3 linked regions of the Homo sapiens genome follow. The protein of the gene in region 1 purifies or fractionates together with the protein of each later gene. This does not show direct contact. Each region holds a gene or a part of one and is shown on either strand. Other genes may lie near its edges.

Region 1 (2,417 bases):
GAGAGGTCTCCTGGCCAGGTTGCCAGGGCGGCTCGCAGGGCCTTTGGCCCTCACTGCAGGGGTCCCAGGGTTGGGCCTTCGGCTGCTGGAAATGGCTGCTGGGATTGGGCCATCCCTGGCGTCTCAGGAGCAAAAACACTCAGTACCTGCGGGGGCTCCTCCCTAGACTTGCTGCCCATGGGACCAGACCTTCACTCTGTCACTGGAAACCTGGCCCAGCTCTCACCTGCCCGGATCAGGGCCTCTGTGCTGGGACGTGGGTGACTAGCCCTTTCCCCACCAGGAACTTTGCTGCCTTGGAAGTGCTGCGGGAGGAGGAATTTTCCCCACTGAAGAACGCAGAGCCAGCCGACAGGGACAGTCCCCGCACCGCTCGCCAGGCCCTGCTCACCCAGCACTACCGGTGGGCTCTGCGGGCCGGGGCCCGCTTCCTGGATGCCCATGGGGCCTGGCTCCCAGAGCTGCCCAGGTGAGTGTGGCCCTGGGGTAGCTACAGCCAGAAGGGGAGGGCTGTCAGGACCCAATCTTCAGCTCCAGAGCCCTGTTGGCTCTGCGACAGCCATGCTGGGGAGGGGTCTTCCTTCCCGGCACCACCGCAGGTGCAGGTAGCCTTGTGCCCAGCCAGCTCCAGGTCACACGGTGACTGTCGGCACAGCCTCCTGGCCCGACCCTTCAAGTTGTGCTCAGTGCACTGAGGGAGGCAGGGGCTCCCCAACTCCCTCCCCAACTTATCCACAAGGTTTTGGTTTGTTTACAAAGGCATACTTAGATTTGGCTTTTATTTATTTATTTTTATTTTTATTTACTTTTTTGAGATGGAGTCTCGCTCTGTCGCCCAGGCTGTAGTGCAGTGGTGGGATCTCGGCTCGCTGCAAGCTCCACCCTCCCCCGGTTTCCGCCATTCTCCTGCCTCAGCCTCCTGAGTAGCTGGGACTACAGGCGCCCGCCACCACGCCCGGCTCATTTTTTTGTATTTTTTTTTTTTTTTAGTAGAGACAGGGTTTCACCGTGTTAGCCAGGATGGTCTCAAACTCCTGACCTGTGATCTGCCCGCCTCGGCCTCGCAAAGTGCTGGGATTACAGGCGTGAGCCACCTCACCCGGCTATTTTTTTATTTTTATTTTTCTTATTTGTATACATTTGTGGGGTGTGTGTGCAACTTTGGTCAGTCAGGTCAGGGCTTTTAGGGGATCCATCACCCAACCAACGTTGTTCCCATTTATTCACAGGCTTTGAAACTGAGCCCCGGGCATGAATTTAGAAAGTAGCAGGACAGTTTGATTTCAGGGCTGGGAAAGAAAAGGACGTTTGGCTTCCATCTCCCTGATTTTCTAGGGCCACCCCTAAATCTAGCTGCCTAGGCTCTGCGTGGGAGGCCTGTGGGGGTGCTTTCTACCCCAAATCAGGTCCTGTCACTTGGCAGTGGGATGTGTGCTCAGGGTTTGGGGTGTCCAGAGGAAGATGAGCTTGCTGAGACAGGAGCTGTGGGGAGCCAGGTGTGTAGAGCTCAGTCTCCTATCGGGACTGGGGGTGCTGGGGGAGGGCTCTGGGCAGGTGCTGCAAGGAGATATTGACAAGTGGACTTTCCCTAGCTTGCCCCCAAATGGAGACCCTCCGGCCATCTGTGAGATATCGCCCTTGGTGTCTTACTCTGGAGAGGTGAGAGCTGCCCATCCCTATCTGGGGCTTTTCTGGTGTCAGGTTTGGAATACCATCTGGGGAGAGGTGGCTGCTCGGGTGGAGACGGCACAGCTCTACCTCGGTTAACCAATGGGGTCGGTGGTTTAAATTTGCAGAAGACTTTCCAAGATATGGGTTGGGGTGGGGTGAGGCATCCAGAGGCCTTTGCAGGTCCTGGGAGGGCATGGGGATGAGACAGCCCAGGTCTGAGCCCAGTGTGGGGCCAGTCAGGCCTTGGTGGGGGCCTTGCGGAGGGAGGACACCGGCCTCTGCTACCTCCCTGACCTCGGCTGCCCTTGCCCCTTTCTCTGGTCAGGTCAGACCTGTGCGTGACAGGAGGGTCCCCTGCTGGCCTAGGGTCTTGAGTGTGGTCTTGGGTGGCCTTGCAGTGTGTGTCTGCTCCTGGCCCTGGAAGCCTTTCTGTCCCCACCCCTCCCTGACTCCAGGCAGACCTGGGATCGCACCTGGGGACTGTGGCTCTTGGTGTGGCCAGAGGGGCTGTGACCCGCCAAAAGGTGGGTACTTGGCCATTGTCCCCTGCTCGTCTCCAGGGTTTAGAAGTGTACCTGCAAGGCCGGGAGTTCCAGTCCCCGCTCATCCTGGATGAAGACCAGGCCAGGGAGCCGCAGCTGCAGGAGTCCTGACCCGCCCAGACTGTCCCCAGACTCCCCCGAGACCTGCCAGCCCCGGCATCCTGGAAGTCCCGACTCCCCCCAGACCTGCCAGCCCCGGCGTCC
Region 2 (3,656 bases), on another chromosome or scaffold:
TTGGGAGGCTGAGGCAGGAGAATCACTTGAACCCAGGAGGCGGAGGTTGCAGTGAGCTGAGATCATGCCACTGCACTCCAGCCTGGGCAACAAGAGCAAAACTCTCTCAAAAAAAAAAAAAAGGAAAGAAAAAAAAAGAGGCTTGTAACTCCAACATTAACTATATAAATATTAGCATAATACATATATAAGATTTTAATATATATGTTTAACATATATAGGTATATATGTGTTTAATGCATATATACATATATGTATGTGTGTATATATTTGTTATATAGTGAAATATATATTTGTTATATATTGAAATATATATATTTGTTATATACATACATACATACATGTTATATACACACATACATACACACACACACACAATAGGAAACTCCTAATCTGGTACAGAGATAAATATATTCTGCCAAAAAGAATGCTATGACAAACTGGCATTTATTAAAATGGGCTCTTTACCAGTAATTATTCTTGAATCAAAGAATGACACTTTGTTATCTGCTCTACCAAATAATGTCCACCTGAGAGCCAACTTTAAGCTTGGCCTGGTGTCCTACGTGTCTGCAAAAAACCCTCACATTTTCTAATTACTTCACAGCTTATAAATGAAACAGACTCTTCAGAAACCTATGCAGCTATATGTGCACCAGAACTTCATCACCCTGGGGGAGGAACCGCAAAAACTCAGCCCTATAATAGAAGGCACTGTCCTATGAATAAGCTAAAAATTAATTCTGTATCTGCATTTTAAAAAGGACACACTACCTCAAGTAAGATTTGTTATTTTCTCATTTTACAGCAAGAAGTTTTTTTTTTTTCTTTATGATAGTCCATCAAAAATGAATAGAGATCAAGTGGTCATTCTAACATTTGGACCAAAGCCAGGTCAGATCTGAAGGCAATGCAGAAAGGAGGCAGGAATGTGGGCCACACACCTGAAACACTAGGTCATTATCCTCCTTATAACATACCAGAAGGTAGTTCCCTGCCCAAAAGATAAACTCCAGACTCAGCTTAAGAAGCACAGCCCTTAAAATTTTAACCTCAGCCAACCTTTCCTCCTTTATTTAGTAAGAAAAATTATAGCTATTAACCTATTCTTATTGTTCCATAATATCAGTCTCTTATTGTATAAGCTACAATCAGTTCGGAATTGCTGCTGAGTTCCAAAGAGCCTGTAAGTGTCCAAGGCACTCCACAAACCAAGCAGTTGTCAAAAGGGATTTCAGTAAACACTACTCTCTAGATACCTTTCCAAAGGATTAACACTATGAGTCAGAAAATAGTTACCATTAACTACAGTGGTGGGATCGAATTTAACAACGTAATAATCCCTAAAGGAAAACACACTGCCTCCTTCTCATCTGTCGCTAGTCCATATGAAAAGTAGCAACGTCTGGTGGACAAGGGCAGCCTCAGAATGGGCTCTGGGGGACGGCACAGATTCCCACACACTGGACTTCCTCTGACTGGCTGATGGCAGGGATCCTGGCTTTAGGCGTGAGTATCTTTCTTTCTTTGCATCTTCCTACAATTTACAGTTTTTGTATAAATACAATGACTTATTTATTTATTTATTTTTTTTTTTTTTGAGATGGAGTCTCTTGCTTTGTTGCCCAGGCTGCAGTGCAGTGGCACGGTCTCGGCTCACTGCAACCTCTGCCTCCCAGGTTCAAGTGCTTCTCCTGTCTCAGCCTCCTGAGTAGCTGTGATTACAGGCAGCCGCCATCATGCCTGGCTAATTTTTTGTATTTTTAGTAAAGATGGGGTTTCACTGTGTTGGCCAGGCTGGTCTCGAACTCCTGACCTCAGGTGATCTGCCCACCTCGGCCTTCCAAAGTGCTGGGATTACAGGTGTGAGCCACCATGCCTGGCCTACAATGATGTTTTTCAAGTTTCTATTTTGCCATTTTAATATAGAACTTTTATAGAAAAAAAAATGTTTCTCTGAGAAGCAGTTTCTCAATTAACCTGGATAAACATATCTACTAAGACCATGAAGCCATAGACAGATAGCAATGTCCATCACAGGGGAAAACTGAACACAGTGGCGTGCTGTATAATGACATTTCCATTAACAACAGACAGCATCTACAACAGTGGTCCCATAAGGTTATAATGGAGTTGAACAATTCCTATCACCTAGTGACAATCTAACTGTTGGAACATTGTAGCAAAATGCATCACTCATGTGTGGTGTTGCTGGCGTACACTAACCTACTGCAGTGCCAGTCGTTGAAAAGTCTAGCACATTCAATTACATACAGTATGTAGTACTTGATATAATAATAAATGACTATGTTACTGGTTTATGTATTTACTCCACTACACTTTTTATCATTATTTTAGAGCGTACACCTACTTATGCAGGAAAAAATAAGTTAATTGTAAAACAGTCCTTCAGGAGGACTCCAGAAGAAGAAATTGTTATCACAGACAACAGCTCCACACATGTTACTGCCCCCGAAGACCTTCCAGTGGGACAAGATGTGGAGGTGGATGACAGGGATAAGGATGATCCTGACCCTGTGCAGGCCAAGGCTAATGTGTGTGTGTTTGTGTCTTCATTTTTAACCAAAAAGTTTAAAGAAAAAAAAAGAAAGAAAAAACTTATAGAATAAGCATATAAAGAAAATATTTTTGTACAGCTATACAACATGTTTTCAGCTACATGTTATTACAAAGAGTGAAAAACTTTTAAAGAAGTTTATAAAGTCAAAAAGTTACAGTAAGCTCATTTATTACTGAAGAGAAGTATTTTTAGAATAAATTTAGTGTAGCCTAAGTGTACAATATTTACAAAGTCTATGGTACTGTACAGTAATGTTTTAGGCCTTCACTTTCACTTGCCACTTACTCACTGACTCACCCAGAGAAACTTCCAGTCCTGCGAGCTCCATTCACAGTAAGTGCCCCATACAGGTGGACCCTTTTTTTAGTATTTTATACAGTATTTCTACTATCCCTTTTCTGTGTTTAGATGTGTTCAGATACACACATACTTTGGTGTTACAAGATTCTCTTGTGCTTAGAGATTCAGGACAGTAGCATGCTGTATAGGTTTGCACCCTAGGAACAATAGGCCATACCCATATAGCTTAGGGTATGAAGCTATACAGGTGTATAATACACTGTACCATCCAGGTTTGTGTAATTCACTCTATGATGTTCATATGATGACAAAATTGCCCCATGGGAGATTTCTCAGACCATAACCTAGTCATTAACTGATGCATGACTGTATATCATATATTAGCTCTAAAAACCAAACCTATAAGTGAACTGACAAAAGTTGCCATAGATCCTAACAGCCTTTGAGACGGATGGGGGGCAGACAGAGCTTGGCACACTTCAGCCGTTCACAGCTCCCAATCAACCAGTCAGGATGCTGGTGCCATATAATTAGGAGAGAAAGCTAAATCACCGAGGACTCAGCCAAAAGCAAACCATGGTGGTGAGGAGGAAGGTGAAGGAAAAGGGTGGTATGCAACACAGTGGGACACCTTGCCTTATTCCCCATGTTTTTTGAGGCTGGTCCTGAGAAGTTTAAGAGAGAAAGACTCAGAAGCATGCATTGGAGGCCAGTTTTCTTGTGGTCCCAGTGATGGTGGCTCTTGTGACGCCTGGATGAGGAGGGAGAGCCTGGA
Region 3 (3,656 bases), on another chromosome or scaffold:
TCTCCTCCTCAGTTCAAATGATTCTCCCGCCTCACCCTCCTGAGTAGCTGGGATTACAGGCACCCACCACGACTTATATTTTTAGTAGAGACAGGGGGTTACCATGTTGGCCAAACTGGTCTCGAACTCCTGACCTCAAGTGATCTGCCCACCTCAGCCTCCCAAAGTGCTGGGATTCCAGGTGTGAGCCACTTCACCCAACCTACAAAGAATTTTTTTGAATTCGCCGCACATGGCGGCATGTGCCTGTAGTCCCAACTACTCAGGAGGCTGTGGTGGGAGGATCGCTTGAGCCCAGAAGTTTGAGGCTAAAGTGAGCTACAGTGAGCTATGACTCCACCACTGTACTTCAGCCTGGGTGACACAGCAAGACTCAGCCAAGAAAAAAAAAGAAGAAGAGCTATCTCTTAATAATCTGTATCCAGGTCACTTCAACCTTAAGATGACCAAGACAATGTTGATTTACTTTACTTTTGGGTATTGTGTCTGTTAGATTTGTGTTCAAATAACAGTGGCTTTAAAAAATCTAGGTTTCCAGGCGTGAGCCACCACACCCACCCCTACTCAGGAGGCTGAGGCAGGAGAATCACTTGAACTGGGGAGGCGGAGGTTGCAGTGAGCCAAGATCGCGGCATTGCACTCCAGCCTGGGCAACAAGAGCAAAACTCCTTCTCAAAGAAAAAAAAAAAAAATAGGCTTGACGGGTGTGTGGTGGCCCAGACCTGTAATCCCAGTGCTTCGGGAGGCCAAGGCAGGCAGATTACTTGAGCCCAGCAGTTCAAGCCCAGCCTGGGCAACATAACAAAACCCTGTCTCTGCAAGTCTCGTCTCTACAAAAAATACCAGAAAATTAGCTGGGTGTGGTGGGCTACTTCTGTAGTCCCAGCTACTTAGGAGGCTGAGGTGGGAGGATCACTTGAGCTCAGGCATTGAGGACTGCAGTGAGCTGTGATTGCACCACTGCACTCCAGCCTGGGTGACAGAGTGAGACCCTTTCTTTAAAAAAAAAAAAAAAAAAAAAAAAAAAAACAGGCTGATTTTTCTTCAAAACACGTGACACATGGAGCTAGAACTGCTGTGGAAACTCCATGGTGCCAGCAGCGCCCAGGCCTCTGGCCTCCTCCAGTGCCATACTTGGCATGTGGCTTCTAACCTCAAGGTTGCCACATGGTCATAGAGTAGTTTTTGGAACTCAAGCCATTAGAACCACATTCGAGGCAGGAAGAAGGAAGGAAGGGAGAAAAGCCAACAGGCACCTCTGTCAGAGGAATGTTGCATGTCAGTGCTGCCCCTGATGGCACAGCAAGGAGGATCCAGAAGAAAGTATTTGGGGCAGGACTGATTCCGGATATGGGTGAGGATGTGTTAAATGTGTGTCTCTTTCAGGCATCTGTGGCTCTTGTGCAATGAACATCAATGGAGGCAACACTCTAGCTTGCACCCGAAGGATTGACACCAACCTCAATAAGGTCTCAAAAATCTACCCTCTTCCACACATGTATGTGATAAAGGATCTTGTTCCCGTGAGTTTCTGCATCTCTCTGGTTTTGTTTTTATTTGCATGGGGGGCAGTGCTATGTGTGTTACGCTATTAGTTTTTCAGGGCAGGATTTGTTTGAGTATTTAAGGCTCCTCTTCTAGTCAGATAGTAAATAGATGGGACTGTTTCCTATATTATGGCAGGAGGAGGACCACAGTGTCACTGAGAGATTAGGAAAATCTCCAGATCTGAGACAGTGTGGCCAGAGTTTAATTAAAGAATTTGAATGGCAGAAGATAAACGCCTAGAAAATCCTCCAGCAGCTCATTTGGTGAGGTTTGTTTGAGAATAATGGGGCACAGAATTTTAGAATTGGAACATTCCCAGAAATGAATAATTTGGCCATAACTACAAAGAAATCATGTGGAAAATGCCAGTTGGGAAAGCAACAGCTGTTTATGAGTCCCACTTTAATTTCTACCTCCCTATATTTGAACACCTTTGCTGACGTGGTGTTTTCAAGGGCAGAAAGGACTGTGGGATTGGCAGGTTTCCCAAGTAGGTGAGGGAGAGGTTTCCTAACCATGCTTAACATTGTGACCATTTTTCCTTTTGTAATCTTTGCATATATTCATGACAAAGGAAAAGAGTCTGGCTTCTGCCTGGCATAGAGTGGACGAGTAGTCAGTGTCCAAGAAATGGGGTAAATAAAGCTGAGGTGATGATGGAATCTGATCCTTTTCTTCTTCTTCTTCTTCTTCTTCCTCTTAACCACAGGATTTGAGCAACTTCTATGCACAGTACAAATCCATTGAGCCTTATTTGAAGAAGAAGGATGAATCTCAGGAAGGCAAGCAGCAGTATCTGCAGTCCATAGAAGAGCGTGAGAAACTGGTCATTAGTCCCTATTTATTGTTTCAATCTGAAGAATTTATTGCAAAGATGATTGCCAGGAGTGTGGCTTGGCAGGGAACATAAGCTGATGCAAGCCATTTAGTGTATTCTGGAGAGGAACTGGCACAAGGGTGGGGCACTCATCCTCTTAGGGCCGGGTGAGTAGTGTGAACCCGTGAATGGCCCAGAGTGGACCAAGGAGCTAGAGCCCTGTGCCCCGCCTGCAGGGGCGGGTGGTTGCTGTGTGGCTACTCCATCTTTTTCAAAAGAAACCAGTATGTAAATTGCCTGGGCTTTAAAAAGTGACCACTAAGTCAGAACTGTTCCCTCACTGGGGGCAAAATGAAACACATATGCTGGCCAGTTGTAACTACCACCGTCCTGCTTTACAAATGGGAGTGAAATGTTAATGGCAAAACAGAGTCATCGATATTCTTTCCTGACACCATACTTCTGGTGATCTGTGGGGTGGGATTATTCCTGGCCTGCTCACTCTCTGGGAGTTGCCATTCCTGTGTACAAGCTGTAAAATCTTAAAGCGGAGGCATCATTATCAAGTTTTCAGTCTTTCTTCTTCTACACTACTTCTACTCCTCTGCGAAGAAGTCTTCTCTGATTTGCATACTCCCTGCATACTTGTGGACGTGAGGTAGGAAGGGGACCAAATGGAGACAGAGCCCCACCTGCAGGTCTGCACAGGGCCAAGGGCAATGGCTGTGTCTTCTTCCTTTCTGGATCCCTAGGCCCTGGCGCATGTTATTTTATCCATAAATATTAGTTATGTAAATACTGTAAAAATATATATAAATTTTTTAAAAGGCCAGATGCAGTGGTGCATTCTGATAGTCCCAGCTACTCAGGAGGCTGAGGTAGGAGGATCACCTGAGCCCAGGAGTTTGAGAGTCTGAGAGTTTGAGGCCAGCCCGGGCAACATAGCCCAGGTTTTGTCTCTAAAACATATACATATATGTGAATATATGAAAAGTATCAGTTGTATGAATGAATAAATTAATTCTACCTTTTGAGACTTGGTAAATATTTAGCATCCTCTCCTGTTGCCCATAAAACGTTAAGAAAGGGGAGTCCGGCCAGGTGCAGTGGCTCATCTGTAATCCCAGCACTTAGGGAGGCCGAGGTGGGCGGATCACTTGAGGTCAGTTGTTCGAGACCAGCCTGGCCAACGTGATAAAACCCCATCTTTACTGAAAATACAAAAATTAGCTGAGTGTGGTGGCTCACACCTATAATCCCAGCTACTCAGGAGGCCAAGGCAGGAGAATCT

What was found.
Region 2: the proteins of UAP1L1 (region 1) and TGFBRAP1 purify together in Homo sapiens (co-immunoprecipitation; one large-scale study listed by IntAct). This does not show direct contact.
Region 3: the proteins of UAP1L1 (region 1) and SDHB fractionate together in Homo sapiens (co-fractionation; one large-scale study listed by BioGRID). This does not show direct contact.

What each region holds. Positions count from the first base shown.
Region 1 is NC_000009.12:137,080,406-137,082,822, forward strand, and holds part of UAP1L1 (UDP-N-acetylhexosamine pyrophosphorylase-like protein 1), read left to right. Parts: intron 1-283; coding exon 284-469; intron 470-1,592; coding exon 1,593-1,659; coding exon of another isoform or gene 1,660-1,767; exon of another isoform or gene 1,768-2,225; intron 2,226-2,231; coding exon 2,232-2,324; 3' UTR 2,325-2,417.
Region 2 is NC_000002.12:105,319,583-105,323,238, forward strand, and holds part of TGFBRAP1 (transforming growth factor-beta receptor-associated protein 1), read right to left. Parts: intron 1-3,656. UniProt on the Homo sapiens protein: Plays a role in the TGF-beta/activin signaling pathway. It associates with inactive heteromeric TGF-beta and activin receptor complexes, mainly through the type II receptor, and is released upon activation of signaling.
Region 3 is NC_000001.11:17,026,467-17,030,122, reverse strand, and holds part of SDHB (succinate dehydrogenase [ubiquinone] iron-sulfur subunit, mitochondrial isoform 1 precursor), read left to right. Parts: intron 1-1,386; coding exon 1,387-1,523; intron 1,524-2,257; coding exon 2,258-2,374; intron 2,375-3,656. UniProt on the Homo sapiens protein: Iron-sulfur protein (IP) subunit of the succinate dehydrogenase complex (mitochondrial respiratory chain complex II), responsible for transferring electrons from succinate to ubiquinone (coenzyme Q).